2 separate regions of the Homo sapiens genome follow, and region 2 is linked to region 1. Evidence: fine-mapped expression QTL. A gene starts in region 1. The other region holds a variant in brackets. All regions are shown on one strand. Distances are between the middles of the regions. Region 1 holds the start of NWD2 (NACHT and WD repeat domain containing 2). Region 2 overlaps LINC02505 (long intergenic non-protein coding RNA 2505).

The links. PIP is the estimated chance that this variant, and not a neighbour inherited with it, causes the effect.
Region 2: its variant is the best candidate, but not a certain one, in a credible set for the expression of NWD2 in pituitary (GTEx, PIP 0.62).

The regions. Positions count from the first base shown.
Region 1 is chr4:37,239,975-37,250,257 of GRCh38, reverse strand. It overlaps NWD2 (NACHT and WD repeat domain containing 2), which reads right to left and starts at 5,515. Exons shown (of 7, transcript NM_001144990.2): 1 at 5,040-5,515. The coding sequence starts at 5,190. MIR4801 (microRNA 4801) reads left to right here and starts at 8,267; the gene lies at 8,267-8,348.
Region 2 is chr4:36,506,749-36,517,031 of GRCh38, reverse strand. All of the region lies in intron 3 of LINC02505 (long intergenic non-protein coding RNA 2505), which reads left to right. It also overlaps the pseudogene LOC100130532. Among named protein-coding and RNA genes, the nearest start is that of MIR1255B1, 85 kb to the right of the region's middle. RefSeq lists an enhancer at 2,919-3,088. The variant A/G (reference allele first, on the strand shown) is at 5,209.

The DNA.
Region 1 (10,283 bases):
TCATAATATAGCAACTCAGTATATTCCCCCTGACAACTTAGGTTTTAAAGATGTTCTTGTATCCAAATGGCTGTGTGTGTGTGTGTGTGTGTGTGTGTATACACACACATATATGCTTTTTGCTGTATTTTTTCCACTACTCATAAAGACAATAAAAAGGGCGCCACAGAAATAATCAGGATAGTAGGAAAAGTAAGAAGAATAATGATGAAGAATACTGATAGGTTTCACGTGAATTTCTTAATGCAGATATGTCTGCCTTTTGTGTGGGGAAGCAAGTTCAAGCAATTGAGCACTAGTTGTAGCAAATGAACCCATGTACACATATAAAGGGAAAGCATGTCTCTTGCTGTTACTTCCACTGTAACGGAGAACAAACCTTCCTATGGAGACCCCAAAGGCATGAAGAGTCTGGGAAGATGCAAAGCCATGCAGACAAAAGAAAACCAAGTAGTAATGGTATGAACACCTGATCAACACTGTGGACAAGAGTTCATGACTCTCAATAATGACCAGCACAGAAATCTGAGTGGACAGAAAAATGCATTAAGTGTTAAAATATATTTTTCTCCACTTCAGATATCTTTTTGCATGCAGAGGGCAATGCACTAGTGTAGGATGCTGTCAGTTACTCCTTAGGGGAGAAGTATCTTAATCTTATGGCTGCAGTTGGAAGGAAAATCTGACCACAATAGCCCAGCCTCTGCTTTCTTTCTCGTAAAATTGCCATTCTCCTCCACTCCTCCATGTGTTAAGGTTTAAAGGGATCTACTCTGTCCACGAGCCAGGGAGAGTGGTCTGTGCTCTGCCCACTGCTGACAATGACTGGGAGTAAAGCCTGTCTAATTCTTGGGTTCAATATTGGGAAACTCCCTTGCCCAGAGTTAAAACCATATTCTCCAACAAAAGTCTGTATCTTTTACCTGCAATTCCAAAAATCTCCAAAGCTTTGAACATAAAAGGTTTTCCCCAATCCATCTGGTAGCAAAACTTGAAGTAACCTGAGTCCTTGATGGCCAAACCTGACCTTGACTGACATGAAGCTACTTAAAATCTGTATCACTCCTCTTGGAGCTTTGCTATCTGATACAACAGCCACATGTGTCTATTTAAATTCAAATCCATTAAAATTGTATAAAATTAAAAATTCATATTCTTAGTCATACTAGCCACATTTCAAATGCTCAATAGCCCTATGTGGCTAGTGTTACCATATCAGATAGACATTTCCAGCATCACAGAAAGTTCTGTATAACACTGACTTAGAGTGAACTCATGTTTCCTTATACACCTATTCATATCCGACATGGGTTGTTACCCCAGAACCCACATATTAGAGCGTAAGTATTTTTCCTCAAAATCTGAAAAAAGAGATTCCAAAATCACATCTGGCCCAGATGATCACAGATAATGGATTGTGGACCTGCACTGTTTTCATCAGTAATAAAAGTGATATTTTGGTCTTCCTTCTGTGTTAAGACTGTACCTTCCTATAAACTGATAAAGAATCAAGACAGAGAAGAGGAGGGCCTTTACACTCTAATAACAGGGAGAGAATCTCGCAGGTTCCTTTCATCTCCATATGCATGGACTATTTAGGCTAATCACAGTAAAGGATTTTATGTGGGTTTTAAAATCATCTTTCCAAGGAGCTATAAGTGCTGTTCTGGCAGAAGTACAGTAGCTAAATGACTAGAAAACTTCCAAGGATTGATGAAGATGTCACAGATGGAATTTCTATGTTGGGTGGGAGGTGGAACTAGATGAAGTCCAAGGCCCATCCACTTAAAAAAATCTGGGATAATGCTATCACCTCCCCCACATGGGTCCTTCTCCAGCATCTTCCATGAGGTGGGGACTAGTCAGAGGCAGATACACTTCTGGACAAGAATGTGTCAATTAGAGTCCAGCACATTTTGAAATTTCCTTGAATGCCTCGGACTACCTCTTGGTGGGAGCAAAGTGGGTCAGCATAGCCATGTTCCCTGCCAGCTGTTCATACTCTTTAAGTCTGACAGCCAGAAGATGCTGGACAGTGCTTATCCCCCTATCTGTATTGTCTTGCCCACGTGGTGTGAGATATTTCACAGAGATCTGTCAAGAGCCTAGGCTGGACAAGAGAATATCAAGTGTTGTCAGGGTCCTATAGGCTCTACTCTTTCACTCTGCTATATGAATTCTGGCAAGTGGTATAATTTGATACAGCCTCAGTAATCTCATCCGTAGAATAGATGGAACACCCCTGGTCCACTACCCTCAGAGGGTTGTTTGAGGATAGAAAACAAAATGAAAATATTGAATGAACTAATATATGGGAAAGTAATTTTTTCATTCTAAAGAAATTCTACGGTTAGGTGCGGTGGCTCACACCTGTAATCCCAGCACTTTGGGAGGCTGAGGCAGGTGGATCACCTGAGGTCAGGAGTTTGAGACCAGCCTGGCTAACATGACGAAACCCCGTTGCTACTAAAAGTACAAAAGTTAGCCGGGCGTAGTGGTGGGCACCTGTAATCCCAGCTACTCTGGAGGCTGAGGCAGGAGAATAGCTTGGAGCCGGGAGGTGGAGGTTGCAGTGAGCCGAGATTGCGCCACTGCACTCCAGCCTGGGTGACAAGAGCGAGACTCTGTCTCAAAAAAAAAAAAATTCTATTCATTCTATTATCTATTTCATTCTATTATCTTCGTTACCGATGGGGAAATTCCATGCAAGCCTTGTAAAGCACTACCTATTAAAACAATACTCCAAGCAAAATCCTTGCTGGGTTCTGAGTATTGCTGTGAGTTCAACACAAAGCAGCTTTTATTTAGAACATAAATTGGATTTCCGCTAGTAAAGGAAAGCATGAGATAATGTTCTTTGTCTTAATTTGACAGTAGAGAGGCTCTTCAGTATTGGCCAAGAATCTAATATTGGATCATACCAAAACACAGGCATTTGCTTTCTAAATTGCATCCATAAAGATCCCACGGTCAAGTGCTGCCTCTGACAGAGCATTTACCAAGATTTTAAGGCTTCACGTTCAGATCATTAAAAATGCCCATCTGTCTTTTTTATTTAATATGCCATCCGCTCTCCAATTTGGATAAAATCTGAGATCCTGCCCCTATTGAAACTTCCCAGGTAAGCTTCACATTTCTGTTTTGTTTGTTAAGATCCTTGTGGAAGCTGTCCAGCTCAAACCGTAGCCAAGGGGCATGACTGGCTCCTCCCTCCTGTTTGCTTTCCTAGGGTTAATCTGTGCTAAAGCTTTTATTCGAAGAAACTAGGAAATTTGAAGAATCATATGGACAGGCTTAAAAAAATGACATTAACCTTGAGTACTAACTCAATATTAAGCTGATAGTATAAATTCAGTATCGTTTTTATCTTAGAAATTGCAAATCTAGACAGCAAGAAAAAAATTACACATATTAGCAGAATTCTTATTGTATTTTAGAAGCCACAAGTTTAAAGAAAAAGAGTGATTTAGCTAGCTTCACATCAGCAGATTGAAACACATTTCACATGACTTTTTTAAAAGCTCAGAACTAAAAATGTCTAACATTTAAACATTTTCTAACATAATTCTCTCACTTAAAAATGTTCTAGCAATATTTTAAAGAAGTAACCCTCAACCCTTAAGTCGCAGATTGCCTTAAATAGGCTGAATATCTCCATTTTTTTTCTTTAAATCCAGATATAGGTACAAATCCTAGACGACATCTTTGAGATACAATGATTTTTTGAGTGTACCATATCATCCTAAAAGCCTCCTTAAGTTCTTTGAAAGTGAACTGTAAACTGATAAAAGGACAGTCGTGCCGTCCCCCAAGAGTATATCGTCTTTCTAATACTAATTAGTGCATGTTATCGTTTTGATTCTCTCCCCAACTCCTTCTCATAATGTAAGCTTTACCTCAGACTTCTGCTAGTGCTATTTTTTCCGAAACGGTAATTTTCTAGAAAGTTACTTTTGTTGGTCTTCTCCGAAAGCTTTTTCAAGAAACCAGAACCTTGGGTTTTCAAATGAGAATTATATCCAATGATCGTTTGAATGTGGACTTTTCTCCTCGACTCTTTTCGACTCAAGGCTTGTTAGAGTGCAGAAAACGTTAATTCTCAAATCTTTCACCTCTGTCAGTCTCCCATGGACTCATAGCCAAACATTTTTTTTCCTAGAAAAGAGCAATTCCTGCAGTTTTATCCTGCCCCAGTCAAATACATCTTTCCTTCCCCAACTCCCCAATTACTGGGAATGAAATCTAACGTTGAGGACTAAGGACTGGAAGGTAGTGATGAGCCAGGATTTGACCGCCCAGCGTTCAACCTCTGTGGTTGTGAATGCAACAAGAAATCAACAAGTTTTCATGGAGTGCCTACCAGGTGCCTTAAGCAGGAACATGACTGAGTAGGCCAAGTTTTAGATACAGAAGACCAAGCCCTGTGACCCAACTGAGATGAGCCCATCCTGCGCGCCCCACCGCGAAGCCTGTTCCGGGACCCACAGAGGGTGTCCCCCTCGACCTCCGGTTCACAAAAGTCTGCTTGGCCTCTGCAAAGGGCACCATCGCACCTGCAGGAGGAGAGTCTCAAGGAACTCACCTCGCCTCAGCTGGAAAAAGTGGCCAAGGAGGTAGCCCCGCACTCAGGAACCCGCCTCGGGGAGGAGAGCTACTGTTTGTGTTTGCGGTCATCTCGGAGAAGAAACCGCTTTAAAAAAAAAAAAAAGGGCGGGGGACAGGAGGTGGTGGTGGCGGCGGCGGCAGAATGGAGCTTCCAGAAGGGCCGGCTAATGCCTTGGATGTTTCTTGGATTGACCCAGGGGAATAACCCGGGGTGGAGAATGGGTGTCCTAATAGAAGTGTGCAGGCAAAACCGGCCAGCGAGGGGAGAAAAAAAGTGATTCAAATTAAATTCCCACGCGCTCAGGGCGGCCACGGCTTTAGCTGGAGGAAGGGAGCGCAGGGCGCACCGGGCTGTGGGGCGGACACACACTCTCCAGCTCCCGCAGCGCTGACGGACAGAAGGACGGACGGGCAAACCCGAGCGAGGGACGTACCTTCAGGGTTGGCGCTGATGAAGACCCGGACGCTGCGGCCGGCGGGCACGAGGTGAGAGGGCAGGGCCGTGAGGTTCCCAGAGAAAGCCGCCCGCCGGAGCGCAGAGTCTCGGGGACAGGGCAGCTTGGTGCCCGCGCCGGCCGGCCACATCGCCCTCTGGGAGGAACAGCCACTGCCGCCGCCGCCACCTCCTGCTCCTCGGGTTCCTGCCCGCAGCTCCACGGAACGGCTCAGCAGGCGGTCGATCTCAGCAGGCGGCGCGGCTCAGAGCCGCTCCGAGCCCGAAGCGCCTTTGGCGAGCTCCGTGGCGCACAGCACCCGCCGGCGAGGAGAAGCCATACGGACCCTCGGGCTCCTGTCGCGGCGGTCTCCTGCCCTTCTGGGCCTCCGCCTTCGCCCGCTGCTAGGGCTCCGAGCAGCAGCCAGCTGGAGCGGGAGGTCAGCGTGGCGGCGGCTACGCGCGCAGCGCCCGTTTGCGCCGGGAAGCGCCGGCGGCCATCTCCCCGCCCGCGCCCGCCGTGGGAGGAGGGGGCCGCCAGGCGGCAGGGACCGTGCGAGCGAGGAGAGCAGATGAAACTTTATGTACCAGAAGGCGTCCCGACTTTATCCGAGCCCGCCTCTCTCGGGCGCAGAAATAACTTGCGGCTTAGAGGACGGCCGGGGCTTGGGCGCGGGGGCCTCGGGGGTGCGCAGGAGCCTCCTGGACTCCTCTGTGGACAGCCGAGGGCTCCTGTCTGCCTCCGTGGTGGAGGACAAGAAATCAATTAGCCTGAGATTTCTACTACGCCCCCTCCAACTCTCCTAAAGGTCACACAAGCCCTGAGAATTTTCGGGAATCCACACGCTCGGGCGTCTGTGCGTCTCTGCCCAAGTGCAGGGAATCCAGCCTCAAAGTTCGACGCACACAACCCCAAGCCAGACCCGGAGAGTTTAAAGCATCAAGTCTCCAGATTGTCTCTGGCGTCCTGGAGGGACGATCGCTTCATCCCTATCTCTCCTGGCGCAGGTGGCAGCGTCCTGCCGCTCCGGTTGCTCCCCACGCGCGCTTGAGCGGGGTTTTTATAGCCAAGCTGCGCCGTTCACGTGCTCCTCGCCGCGTGGTCCCGGAACCTTTCTGGGAGCGGATCTCCGCGGGTAGTTCCTCCGAGGCCTCCAAGGTTCCTAGGGGCCTTTCTGCTCCCATCAAGGCGCACTCACCGGCTGTTCTGCTCGCCTGACAGCTCCCGGGCCCGTCGGCCGCCAGGTTGCTGGAGCCCCGCGCGGCCGGGTGCGCACCTGGGCCGGGCGGGAGGGTGTGGGTTCTCTGGAGCGCCCCCCAGCGCAACGTTACGCAAAGTGCAGGTGGCCGTGGATTGGGACCGGGGTGCGAGAAATCGGAGCTGGCTGTGGGCAGCAGCTTCTTGTGTGCGCTTCAGCCGCTCTTCAAAGTCAGTGCAACGCGTAGGTCAGCTCCACCTGAAGTTGATCCAGGGCGGCCACAGAGGACGCGGGGCCGTCCTCGGGTTCCGGGCTCAAGGTGGACGGCGCAGGGGTCCAGTCCACGTCCTAGGTGACATGAGACGCAGAGGGACCCAGATGTAAAATCGCCGTCTCCCTTCCACTCCACTGCACCCATGGAAATACTGCATAAGCCAGGACAGGAACGAAGACCTCGCAAAATAAAGTGTAATTGTGTTGGGGGCCAACGGCGCAGGGAGAAGGGAGTGTTTGTAGCCTTAATTGCAGTTTAGTCAATAAATCACTTATTCTGGGCTTCTGGGCAGGAACACCTGTCTTTTAGGGAAGAAGAACAGTTTTTCCAAATCTCTGAGATTGGGGAAGGGGTGGGCGGGCACAGGGTGAGGCAGTTCAGACGCAAGTGTTCTCTTCTTGCCTGGATGGTCCTAACCTAAGCAGCCCGGCCTCCTCTGGGCCTGCACTTCCTCTGGGGCCTGCTGGTGGCAGTGAAGTCCTATGCACTGCTGTTCATTTTTTTACCCCACCCCAGCCCCAACACACACGTTCTGGGGTAACCTCTTTGGAAGAATTGGGTCTCTAGGTTTGTAAGGCTGCCTCTCCACTCCTGAGAACCAGGGGGCAGACAGCAGCAGTTCTTACTTTGTGATAATTTGATGCAACCCGTAAAGAAGGCTTGAACATACCCAGTTATTTAATTGATTCAATTTCTTCACTCCAGAGTCATTCTCGGGTGGAAATGTTCTCAGCAGGAAGGGGGTCCCTGAAAGATCCTCTATTGTCTCAAGAGGTATGGACTGAGAGCTGTGGAAAGGTCATGAATATGCGGTATTTATTGCATATCATCGTGTATGAATATACAGTATCTATTACTGGAGAAAAGAGCTAGGATCACTTTATGCCTGATCTCAATATTGTTTATAAAAGAGTGATTAGAAGTTGCCAGATTGTCAGGGACCTGCCTTCCTGCCTTTCTTTTTTCTCTTACTTCTTTGTTTGTTTCTCTCTTCTCAGAAATAGGATTAGTGTTTGTGTCTTCTGACCTTTGCTTCAGATCTCAAAGTGTTGCATTTTCTTTGGATGACTTTGGGATTTTTGGCAGCCTCTATAACCTAATTAACTGTTCTAGACAGGCCGAAGTTTAGCATCTGCCAGTGTCACTGCAGACCAAGGCTGCAGAGGAGAGAGAATTTCACATTGTCTGTGGGCCACGCTGTAAAAGGCTCTTTGCACAGCCAGCTTTGCCTCAGCTAGAGAGGCTGCTGTCTTTGGAGTATTCTACCTAAGAAGGATACCAATTACTCACCTCCCTCAAAACACACACACATACACACACACACACACACACACACACACACACACGCATGTACATGCAAAAACAATCTTCTTCCACATTCTTCAGCTTGCAAGCATCTGACATCCTAACACCAGATATTGATTTCTTAGCACACAAATACCAATAAAGGAGGTGTCACCTATGGTGATAACACTTTATTATAAATTATTTAGATTTATTTCTTAACCTGAGGAACCAGAAAGAAAGAATTAGAGAGAGAGAGACAAATGAGAGGGAGAGGGCATGATTGTGGAAGGCTGACCCTGATTTTCAAGACAACTTTGTTTTTTTTATATCCGATTAAAATATTTTCTAAACGTTTTCTTCTTGTCCATAAATACTGGGAGTTTTTGAACCATGACAGGAGCCGTGATACCTGGATCCTGGCTCTACCATTAATGAGTTATGTGACCTTGAACAAGTCATTTAACTTTTTTGAGGCTTGGTTTTCTTATGTGTAAAATGTAATAACATTTCTTATGTTTAAAACACTTTACACAAGAAAACCAAGGCTCAAAAAATGAAATGACTCAAACCAAGTCAAATGACTCAAAACCAAGACTCAAAACAAGTGAAATGACTTGTTCAAGGTCACATAATGAGTTAATGGCAGAGCCAGGATCCAGGTATCACAGCTTCTGTTCCAGTGCTTCTTGCAACATACCACCTCTATTTTCTAATTTTGCTCAGGTCTGGCCCTTGAGGACATCTTTGTTAACCTGGACAGTGGGTGCTCAGGCCTGTGTTCACAGGTGTGGAAGGCTGGATATCATTTCTGCTTTCTAGATAGGAAAGAAGATCATTGTCTTCATGATCACACAGGACTAGACTCTTCCAACTTCTAGGTTGTTGATCTGATGACAAACACTTCCAGATTCTGTGTTTCTTTTGGGTCCTGCTCTTTCTTCATGAGACCACAGGTAAATCTGTACCATCCCAGACATGGGCTGGAGAATTTAAAGCATCTAGAAATGGGAAGGTGAAAGTACATGAAAAAATGAGCCTGGGACCAAGACTGTGATCAAAAACAAGCATTCCCCTCTCCATCCTCTCACGCTACCACCAATTAGTAGGCTAGACAGGTGCCTTATCCTTATAAAACAATGGGAGCTAGCTCTTTATAAAACAAGGGTGCCCAAAGGTAAAATTACCACTAGCTTCATTCTACTCACTGAGCTAGAAGGAGCCTTGTGATCATGAAATGAAACCCCCTTTAATATGTAGGTGATGCCCAAATTGTAATTTTATTAAATGAGTGGAAAGAAAATTACTTCCTAATAATACTGATATATGAGGATTTCCCATATTCTTGACCTGCTGTTAGGCTTTTAATAGGCATCTCATTTAATCGCACTACATCGAGGGTCTGGGCCCAGCACCTCCTATCTCCAAGTCTGACATCCCTTCTTGGACACTACTGTTCCTGTATATCTTTTGTTATGTGCATTCATTACCTTTTGTAACATATGTGCACTTTGCTTGCTCCGAAGTCTATGGTATGCACATGTACCTCACCTACTTCCCTTCACTGTGATGGCTGATGATTTTTCCCCCAGCTTCGTGGCTATGTCACATGTCCAGTTCATTCCTCGTAGGTGCTGGAGGTAGTGATCAAAAGGCACAAAACTAGAGTCCCTGTGACTGACTGTGACCCAGCAGAAAGAGTGCCCATCACCCAACCTGTATTTGCCTGCAGGTGCATTCCCATGTGTGTACATCAAATATCCTGGTCAGGAAACCTGTGGATCATTCTTCCATGAAATAAATTTGTTCTGTTATGGATAGAAGTGAAATAGAGCCCCTAGTGTCATGAAGAAGACCACATTAGCACATCATGCCACTCTTACTATTTTAGGGACTCCACCCAGTGAAGTCAGTGATGTGCTGTTCTTGCTTCCCTAGCTTGAAGAAGAGTATCAGACTTAATATTACATTCATACAGTGGCTCTATGATTTGGGTGATAAATAATTGAATCTGCTTTGCTAATGTGAGAAATAGATTATTCAGGGTCACTCAAGCCAGGGTTCCACTTTTCAAAGTTCTAGGTGGTAAGCTAGATCATTAGGAACCCACTTATTTGTTTACAAAATGGAAATTTTCAGTCTTTGTGAGAATTTGTCAGCATAACAATTTGCCAACAGAGACTGTTGATTCAGAGGTGTCTGTGGCATGATAGAATTCACAGCAGCACAGTTTTAAATAAAGTTACACCTTTCAGAAAGCGCTCTGATGTTTTCATGACTCAGAAATTCTAACTTTACCTCCACCCCCTTCCAAATCTGCGTAATGTATTTTTTGAGCAGCCTTCCTCTTACAACCTTCTAAACACATTGCTATGAGAGCACTATGCATGCCACACAAAGTAGAAGAAAGTTAAAGAAGTTTGAAGTAAAAGTTTGTAGATTATTTTGTATTTCTAAATTAAATATTTTATTTTCATTTTGTAATTGC
Region 2 (10,283 bases), 730 kb after region 1:
AAAATAGGCATAACATCAGGACTTCCACTGAATGTATTTTAAACACTTCTATGTTTAAAAGCCATATTCTACTGAATGTATTTTAAACACTTCTATGTTATTCAGCAAAGTAAGAAGTAGGCCGTTAGGTGATGTCACCTTATAGTGACATTTTGAAAAATATGTTCTAGCGAAAGTAGAAAGAAATTTCCTGCTTTCATATTGTGCAATTTGAAATACCCTAAATCAATAACTTGAACCTCTTAACTTGTAACATCATAAGAAAGGACACTTAACTGATTATTTCTCAAAATAACACAAGTGGGGCCACTTTATCCAAAGCACTCAATAGTCCCTTCCTACTTCAGCTAAAGTAGGATTTGATTGCTATGCAGAGGAAAAGCACTGGCTTTAGGGAATGCCACATCGTAATGTATCTTTTCTCTTTCTGGAACCCGTTTACTTTACACTTTTGAACCCATTTCTGTATTGCAAGCCCAGACATAATCAAGTTTCACTTGGCTTTGAGTCTAACCTTGACAATCGTATGTTCATATTGATTTTTGTTAATATGACCTTGACTTGGTCATATTCTGATATTGCCATCTAGAAAAGTGTCTTGTTGTAATTTGGGTTATATTTGCTTACTGGTACCAAGAGAAGATCCAATTTTATATTATCCACTTCCAAGCTCCCAGCATTTAATTTCCATTAATATTCTATATAATCACCTTTTAGGCTATACAGAAGATACAAAGAAAAATGTAGAATCTCTTCCCTCAGAGATAAATCACATTAATAGTAAAGATTAAAATGTCTGAGTTTGTAGTTTTTGAAGAAACAATGTTTATCTGTTTTAAGCAGGATATCAGATACCCTTCCTAATTTCCTGAGATGCCAAGGTTGGGGGCTGTGAAACCAGAAACTGTGCCACAGATCACACTGAAGTATTGTTTGTGGGGAGATGCTACTGCTACCACAGGGCCAGACACTGTGGCTTGTGGCTAGAGTCCTGAGGGTGATGCGCTGTGGATTCTCCAGCCTGAACCTCTTGCACTGTTTCTCTGGAAACTAGATGGGTTGCCATCAGCTTCACCGAAATGGTTCCCACACAGAGCTTCCATTTGGACCTCATTATCTTCTGATTCAACATTCAGCACAGATGCATCTGATTGGCAGAGCCTAAACTATGTGCCTTCACCTTAGCAGAAAAAGAGACTGGAAATTTCACATAGAAATTCCTCTCTTGGTAGAATTCCTTCCATGGCCACTTCCTACTATGGAAGTCCAGATATTCCCTAAAATTCTGGAAAAGAGTTTCTGAAGAGGAATGACTAATATTCGCTGGACAACACTAAAGCAAATTAAATGTAATCACGCAGTATATTACAGTATAAAATGAAATGTTGAATTATGTGACTCAAATTATTTATTCTTTGTGGTTTCAAACAACAGCAGCAGCAAGACTCTTAAAAATAGTAATATTACCTTAAAAAAGAAGGAAACCCAGTCACTTTTGAAACATGAATGAACTTGGAGGAGATTGCAATGACTGAAATAAACCAGACACAGAAAGACACATACTGTATGATCTCACTTATATAAGGAATCTGATAATGTTGAACTCAGGGAAGTATAGAGTAGAATGTCAGTTACCAGGGACTGGAGTCAGGGTGGTGGGAGATATTGGTCAAAATTTTAGTTAGATAGGAGGAAGAAGTTCAAGAGATCTATTGTAAAACGTGGTGACTACCGTTAATAACAACATACTGTAGTCTTCAAAGTTTTTGCTAAGAGAGTAGATTTTAATTCTTCTTACTACCAAAAAATAAGTATGCAAAGTAATGTAAGTTAATTAGCTCAATTTAGCCATTCCACAATGTATACATATTTCAAAACAATATGTTGTGCACAATAAATTTATACAATTTTACTTATCAATTAAAAATAAATTAAGAAAGTTAAAATAATAATATTAATTGAAAGATTACCATATTATACACTTCTTTTAGGCACTATCTCATTTAATCTTTGTAACAAGCATATAAATGATACTATTATAATCCTCATTTTAGGCTAACCCCTAAAGAAGTCCACAGTCTCATCACCAAAATCTGTAAATATGGTGTTCCCCCCCATGGCAAAAAGGAACATTGTTAGTGTGATTAAGTTAAGAATCAAAAAATGGGGAGATTTTCCTGAATTATCCAGATGGGTCTAAGGTAATCATAAGGGTCCTTATAAGAGGGAAGGTCAAAGTTTAAAAAAGGAGATGATAATAAAAGTGGAGGTTGGAATAATGAACTTTGAAGGAGGAAGGGGCCAGTAGTAAAGGAAGACAGATGGTCTCCAAAAGCTGGAAAAAGCAAGGAAACAGATCATCCCCTAGAGCCTCTGGAAGAAAAACAGCCCTGTCCATTCCTTGATTTCTGTATGTGAGATTCATTTTAGATTTCTGACATCTGGAACTGCTAAGACAATAAATTGTATTGTCTTAAGCCCCTAAATTTGTGACTATTTGTTATAGGATCAAAGAAAACTAATACAACTCTATTTTACAGATGAGGAAAACAGAACTTAAAATTTTTATTTCTTTACCTCATTTCTCATAGCTAATGAGTGGCAGGGCCAGGATTTGCAGTCCTGTTTGCCTGATGCCAAAATCTGCTCACCCACTTCTTGCTCCATGCCCTTGACTAAGCTATAGGCATTTGTTTTGGTGAAACAGATATTCTTGGGGGCAGGAGAAAGGAGAGAGAGTCTCATGCAATTTAGATGACAGAACATTAAACATTGATCAAGTTTCAATGAACAAAAAGGGATGAAAAGGGTTTTCCAAATGAAGTTATGGAAGTTATAGAAAGAGCTCACTACTATAGCATTTTAAATAGGCAGAAAAAACCCAGAATGCTGCCTAGTAGCTGTAATAACAGAATATACCAAAGTATGAACCTTTTGGGAGGAAGGGGAGCTGCCTTTCCCCTGAGATACTTCTACCTGAAGGTACACCACCTGGAGTAATATTCTTGGCCTCTCTATGCTTCAGAGACAGGAGTAGCTTCCTTGCTTTAGAAGTTGAGAAGTAGCTTATTTTATTAGTAAGTTTGGGAGAGGAAATGTGGATGCGTAGCTCATACTCTTCTTCTTTGGGGACCCTGCCTACCTGAACATAGTGGTGTTGTCAGCATCTCCATGACATAACTTTTTTTTTCTTTTTTTGAGACGGGGTCTTGTTCTGTTGCCCAGGCTAGAATGCAGTGGCACCATCTTGGCTCATGGCTCACTGCAACCTCCACCTCCTGGGTTCAAGCGATTCTCCTGCCCCAGCCTCCCCAGTAGCTGGGACGACAGGTGAGTGCCACCGCTCCTGGCTAATTTTTAGTATTTTAGTAGAAACAGGGTTTCACCATGTTGCCCAGGCTGGTGTCAAACTCCTGAGCTCAGGCAATCCACCCACCTCGGCCTCTCAAAGTACTAGAATTAAAGTCCTAAGCCACCACGTCCAGCCAACATAACTTTCATAGCATCCAGCTTCCACGTAAGAGGCATCCATTGTTTAATGCTGCCTGAGACTGAGGGGAAAGTTGTCCTTAGACTGACATGTGGTGTTGAATCCACTTCTATCACAGATGTGAAGGAACGTTCTCCAATATAGCCTTTCTCATTGATAAAGGTGATATTTTCCTCCTTTCCCTTTTGATTAAGAAATCCATCTTTAAGTGCTTTTCTCTCTCTCATAGTTTACTGTTAGCATTCAATAGAAGCCAAACTGCACCTTCAATAATTTGCTTAGAAATTTCTTCAACCAGACCAGGCGCGGTGGCTCACACCTGTAATCCCAGCACTTTGGGAGGCCAAGGTGGGCAGATTACCTGAAGTCAGGAGTTCCAGACCAGCCTGGCCAACATGGTGAAACCCCGTCTCTACTAGCTGGGTGTGGTGGCACACACCTGTAATCCCAGCTACTTGGGAGGCTAAGGGAGGAGTATTGCTTCAGCCTGGGAGGCGCAGGTTGCAGTGAGCCAAGATCGTGCCACTGCACTCCAGCCCGGCTGACAGAGAGAGACTGTCTCCAAAAAAAAAAAAAAAAAGAAGTTTCTTCAGGCAAGTATTCTGTCTCTCACAAGTTATTCTTTTCATAAAACATTACAACATAAACACAGTTCAGCCAAGTTCTTTGACAATTCATAACAAGAATGACCTTTCCTTAAGTTTTCAATGTTCCTCATTTCCATCTGAAACCTCATGAGAATGGCTTTCATTAGTTGAAAGAGTGAATATGTTCTAGATATAATTATTGGACCTTGTTCCACCTAATTCTAATGCCCATGCTTCATGTTATTCTGTTTATTAAAAAATTGTCTTCAAATGTTTCCTTCTGTGTAAACGTTTTCCTCATACCACCCCCGCCCCCCCCCACAACCGCCTCAGGGGGCTATGTAGTGATGTAGGGTACTGTCCAGGGGAAAGGAAAAACAATAATTATACATTCTGAATTGTAATTTAATATATTAAGCCTCATTACATAAAAAAATGTATTCCTCAGAAAGTTACTTGGTATCATCTGGCACAACATAGATAACAGCTGTTCATAAAACCCTGTTTAGTGAGCTTATTAGTACTTAAACAACTCACAGTTTCATGGTTTATTAACTGTAGAATTTCCTCAGAAAGAGGAACAATTCCTCCAACTGCTATAGAAATACAATTAATATACTACAAATAGGATCAATCTGAAAAGTATTTAATTTATATTAAGCTGTTACTAAATATATTTTGAGCAAACACATACCTGAAATCTTTTAGTGTACTAGACATTTAGTGTATATCAGGTATTACAAACTTTAAAAGGGAAGACTTTGACCTTTTAGTAGAATTATGTTGCACTGCTACACTGTGGTCTTTCTTACTGTAATAGCAGTAACAATAAAATGAAATTAGAAACATTAACTCATGTTTGCTCCGTGTAATTATTTAAAATGTTTTTTAATCTTCTCTACTTTTTCTAACATGTTCTGAAATTGAGAAGATAAGCATTTATTATCCACAATGTTCAGAATGTCTAATTCCTCAAGTCAGCAAAAAAAAAAATTCAGATCTCTTGAAATTTCTTTTTTTATTATTATTATACTTTAAGTATTGGGATACATGTGCAGAATGTGCAGGTTTATGTGTATACATGTGCCATGGTGGCTTGCTGCACCCAACAACCCATCATCTACATTAGGT[A/G]TTTCTCCTAATGCTATCCCTCCCCTGGCCCCCCACCCCGCTACAGGCCCTGGAGTGTGATGTTCCCTTCCCTGTGTCCATGCGTACTCGTTGTTCAACTCTCACTCATGAGTGAGAACATGTGGTGTTTGGTTTTCTGTTCCTGTGTTAGTCTGCTGAGAATGATGGTTTCCAGCTCCATCCATGTCCCTGCAAAGGACATGAACTCATCCTTTTTTATGGCTGCATAGTATTCTATGGTGTGTATGTGTCACATTTTCTTTATCCAGTCTATCATTGATGGGCATTTGGGTTGGCTCCAAGTCTTTGCTATTGTGAATAGTGCTGCAATAAACATACATGTGCATGTGTCTTTATAGTAGAATGATTTATAATCCTTTGGGTGTATACTCAGTAATGGGATTGCTGGGTCAAATGGTATTTCTGGTTCTAGATCATTAACATATTGGTGATCAGGCCATCAATAAAGTCATTAGAATGGCTGAGACTGCCTAAGAATACAGTATTAAGAAGGTAGAGAAGATGGCCAGAGAGAGAAACACAAATGATACCAACACTTCAAAGGTGATGGGCTTCCGGAAGAGAATAGATTACTTGATTAAACAGTGAAAAAAAAATATGGTAACCATTGGAGAGTTTTAAGGAGATCAAGCTAAACTTCAAGAAGATAAAATAAATTAATGACTAAAAAGTAACCACTGTATTTATCCATTAGATCATTGGAGACCTTAACAAGAATAAATTATTATAAATAGAGGGCTATTGTATAATCCTGACTCCACCAGGTTGACTGGTAGATGGGTGATGTGAGTGGTTTTACTCAGTACAGATTACTATTCTGAAAAGTGGAGATAATAAAGAAAGTAAAGATAGAGTCAAAAGATGGTGGCAGAAAAGTTAAGCAAATTGAGAGGAACATGTAAGTAGAGAGAAAGTGAAGACAGATGAATGAAGGTATAACTGATTAGCAATGTTCTAGGTGGAGACAGGAGAAAATGAGATCACGGTCGTGACTGGAGGAAAAAACCCATCTCTGGGACTGGATAAAATAGAATAAAGATGATGTATTTGTTTGCTAGGGCTGCCATACCGAAGTATAATTAACTGAATGGCTTAAACAATAGAAATTTCTATTTTCATTCTGGATGCTAGAAGTCCATAAGGTTTGGGCAGTGTTGCTCTCTTCTGTGGCCTTTCTCCTTGACTTATAGATGGCCATCTTGTCCTAGTGTCTTCTCATAGTCTTACCTCTACACATGCTGTGTCCACATTTCCTCTTCTTATAAGGATATTTTTCATATTAGGTCATTAGTCATATTCCTAGTAACCTCATTTTAATTTACTTATTTAAAGATCTTATCTCCAGATGTGGTCACATTCAGAGATAATGGGAGTTATGACTTTAGTATACAAATTTTGGGGAGATGCAACTCAGTCCATAAAGATGGGTAGATACTTCTAATAATTAAATAAAAGTCATATTGAATATCTAACCAAATGTTTAACACATATTTTTAAAGCATGCTTATAAAATGCAGGTTGCACAATTGGAATCATAGGAGCAGAAAGACTATGGAAAGTAGGTCTTACAGCTAAAGAATATTCAAAACGAAGTTTCTGCATTCAGAGGACACAAGAGATTCAACCCTGAACATCTCTGCTTTTCTGCTTTCAACCATATTTCAAATCTGCTTTCTGGCAATAAACACTGATTGTTATTGGAGGTCACGCTTCAGGGTACGTAGTATAGAGTCATTGACAAATTGCTTCTGTGCTGTAAGGTGAAAATGATGAAATATTCTGCTATATCTCAAGCATTGTTTCTTCCAGTTACATCATCTTTGAAAACATCAAAAAGCCTAAACAGTTGCTAAGAAGAATATATCCAATCCTCTGTATGTCTATAGGGATTGTCAAATTTAATGATTTATTTATCTTTCACTCTTCATCAGATTTACTGAGCTTCACTCTATAAGAAAAATATACAGATTTAACGGAATGCTTATTAAGAACAGAGTAAATGCAGACTCAGTCAAAAAATGGCATTTTATCAACTGTCAGAAAATATGAGCAATCTTTCAAATTATCTGCCTTCATTAAAATCAATTTTTAAATTAAATTATATAAACATATGGTATAAGGTTATTCCTTTAGGAAATGTCATTTTATTTCCTCTATGTGTAAACCTTTGCATACAATTTCAATGCTCCTTATGCATCTTCTGTATAACAAACTGAGGCAGGACCTCCAAGCTGCATGACTCGAGTCCCTGTGGAACACAGCAGATCCTCAAATAACACTGTTTTGTTGAGTGTTGATTCCTTATAACATTGATGATAAAACTAAATAAATCGATTACCATTGAGGCCACTGTCTGTGTGGTGTGCACATTCTTCCCATGTCTGAAGGATTTTCTCTGAGTACTCTAGTTTCCTCCTACATCTCAAAGCTATACACGTTACAATAATTAGTGTGTCTCAGTGGTCCCTGTCTGAGTGAATATGGGTGTGTGTGAGTGCACCCTGTGATAAGATGGCATCTTGTCCAGGGTAAATTCCCACTTTGTACCCTGAGCTATAGAGAGAGACTCCAGCCACCTGCAACTCTAAACTGGAGTAAGTGGGTACAATAATTACCTTGCTTGTTTTTATTAATCTGTCTTAAATGTCTGTATAGCACACGCTTACTTTAATGTTTAATATTAGAAGTGTTTTGCTCTTCATTTAGAAGTTGGTGATGTTTTTGTGACCAGAAATATGCTGTAGGAACTTAACTCTTGTTTACATCAATTAGTCTATGTTAAAATTTGCTTCATTGCACCTCATTTTGATTAAAGTTACAGTTTCCAAGAACTTATCAAGACAGTAAGTGAGGATTTACTGTACTCTGGCTGCTGAATAACCCTGGCTGGCATCTGCTTTCTGCCAGAATTGCTGGAAAGCAGAAGGAACCAATCAAATGTAGTCATTTCAATTGGCTCTGCATTAACACAATATTGGATGCAAATTGCCACCACTTGCTCATGACCATTTTCATGGGCTGGGTCTTAGGAATTTCTTCTTCTATTATTTTAATACAAAAATCTACAGATAGTTTCCTTCAAGGAGCATGGACGGTGTTCGCTTCACTATTTTCAAATTCATATAGGCAAAGCTGTTGGACTCTGCAGCTATAGTGACCTCAGCCAGGAAGCTCCAACCACAGCACTTTCTAAATATACATTTTTCATTCCCAGGGGTACTCAGGAGCAGTGAAAGGGAAGTGATCTTCATTTTAAGTGGCTTCATGGAAGTGTTCATACTTAACAAATGCTTGATTGATGTTTTCTATTGTGTCTATTCAGCTGCAAATCCACTCTTTGTTCCAGATATTGGGAGGGTTACTGAATTCATGGATAATACAGATATGATAGACAGGGGTAGAGACCACTGAATAACTTCTGCTCCAAAGGTAGTGCGTTTACCTGCTACATTGGGCATAGGTATATGATATGATTTCTTTCAGGAGGCATCCTTAGTATCTAGTCTAATGTGTAATCCATATTTAGTTTTTTGTATTGTACATAGTCAAATTAATTTACAATTTGTGCATTTTCTATTTTTAGATGTTTCAGTAACTTGTGCCTCATAATATGAATGAATCTCATCTTGAAACAGTTTTTCAGCACTAGATCTGTGACTTCATAGTTTGTCATAATTATTTCCACAAGATTTTTGGATTTTAATACAAAGACATGCACATGGTCACCCTTTATCACAGGATCACTGACACTGATGGGGTTATCTGCCATCTACTTCGGCTTCATGGCATGGTGTGACTTTGTTTTGGCAACGTCTGACAATGCTATGGACTATACTGACTCTCTGATTTGTAATTTAAGCTCAGAGTAATTGACAAGCACCCTTCTTAAGAGTCCAGACTTCTTGAAGTTCTAGGTTGTCTTTTTCATCATCACTCTGAATAATGAACAGTAACTGATGTTGGTTTTACTCCATACTGAAGACTACTGGGTCCTGCTTATTTCTCATTAGTATTCACAAAAATAATTGCCTATTAGCTGGAGTATTACTTCCACTCTCAGCCACCACCTCTCCATCTTCTTGCACTTGTCTTCCATCTCATTCAACGTGTCAGGTGCAAACTGCTGCTGTCCTGGTTGCAGGTCTTGCTGAAAGTCATTGTCCTCATTTGAGTTATCTTTGTGATGGCAATTGTTGTCTTGGGATGTTGGCATTATTATTCTGGGCATTATTATCGTTGTTACTCTTGGAGATCTATTTGCTAACAAGGGCCAAGGAAACCCAAATTCCTATGCCTGCACTAAAGCAAACTCAAGTATAGCCCTTGAGTGGTTGACGAAACAATATAGTCCAGTCAAATAAACTCCAACTGGGCAACAATTCAATAAACTGGCCGAAGGAATCAGGCTTCAGTATATGGCACTGAACTAGGCTGATATTAACCAATCAATTCCATCTCGAGTGGTCTGAGATCCAATAGTATGGTTTATATAGATAAGACAGTTATAAATTACAGATATTTGATATAGGAAAAACTTCATTGATTACCTTTATTCCTATAATGATGATGATACCAGGATATTCTACCACATCAGTCAAACCATACTTTACCAGATCTGCATCAGCCATTCTGCTCTGCAGCTCACTCATCTACATATCCCAGATGGTGGGTTTCACACTTGTAGAACTTCAACTCTGACATCTTAATGAAAAAAAAAGACATAACTGTTGGTTCAGGAATGCTGGATTCAAACTTTATGTAAGCTACAGGGCAGTGAGGGTGAAGAACTAAGATCTTTTTTAAGAGCATTTTTGCAAACTCCCCAAACAATACTGCACAAATTTCTAAAATCATGTGATCTCTAACTGCCTCCAATTACATATCAGATGAGACCTACAATGAAAGGAACTGGAACCATTTCTAGGTGTTCCTAGTTTCAGGAAGAGGCTAAATATGTTACTAAAAAGATGTATTTTCAGGAATTTAAGGGTCCTTTACATTTCCTCATGATGAAAGATCTTAAGCTGATGCACAGAAAGCTTTTAAACAGCAGT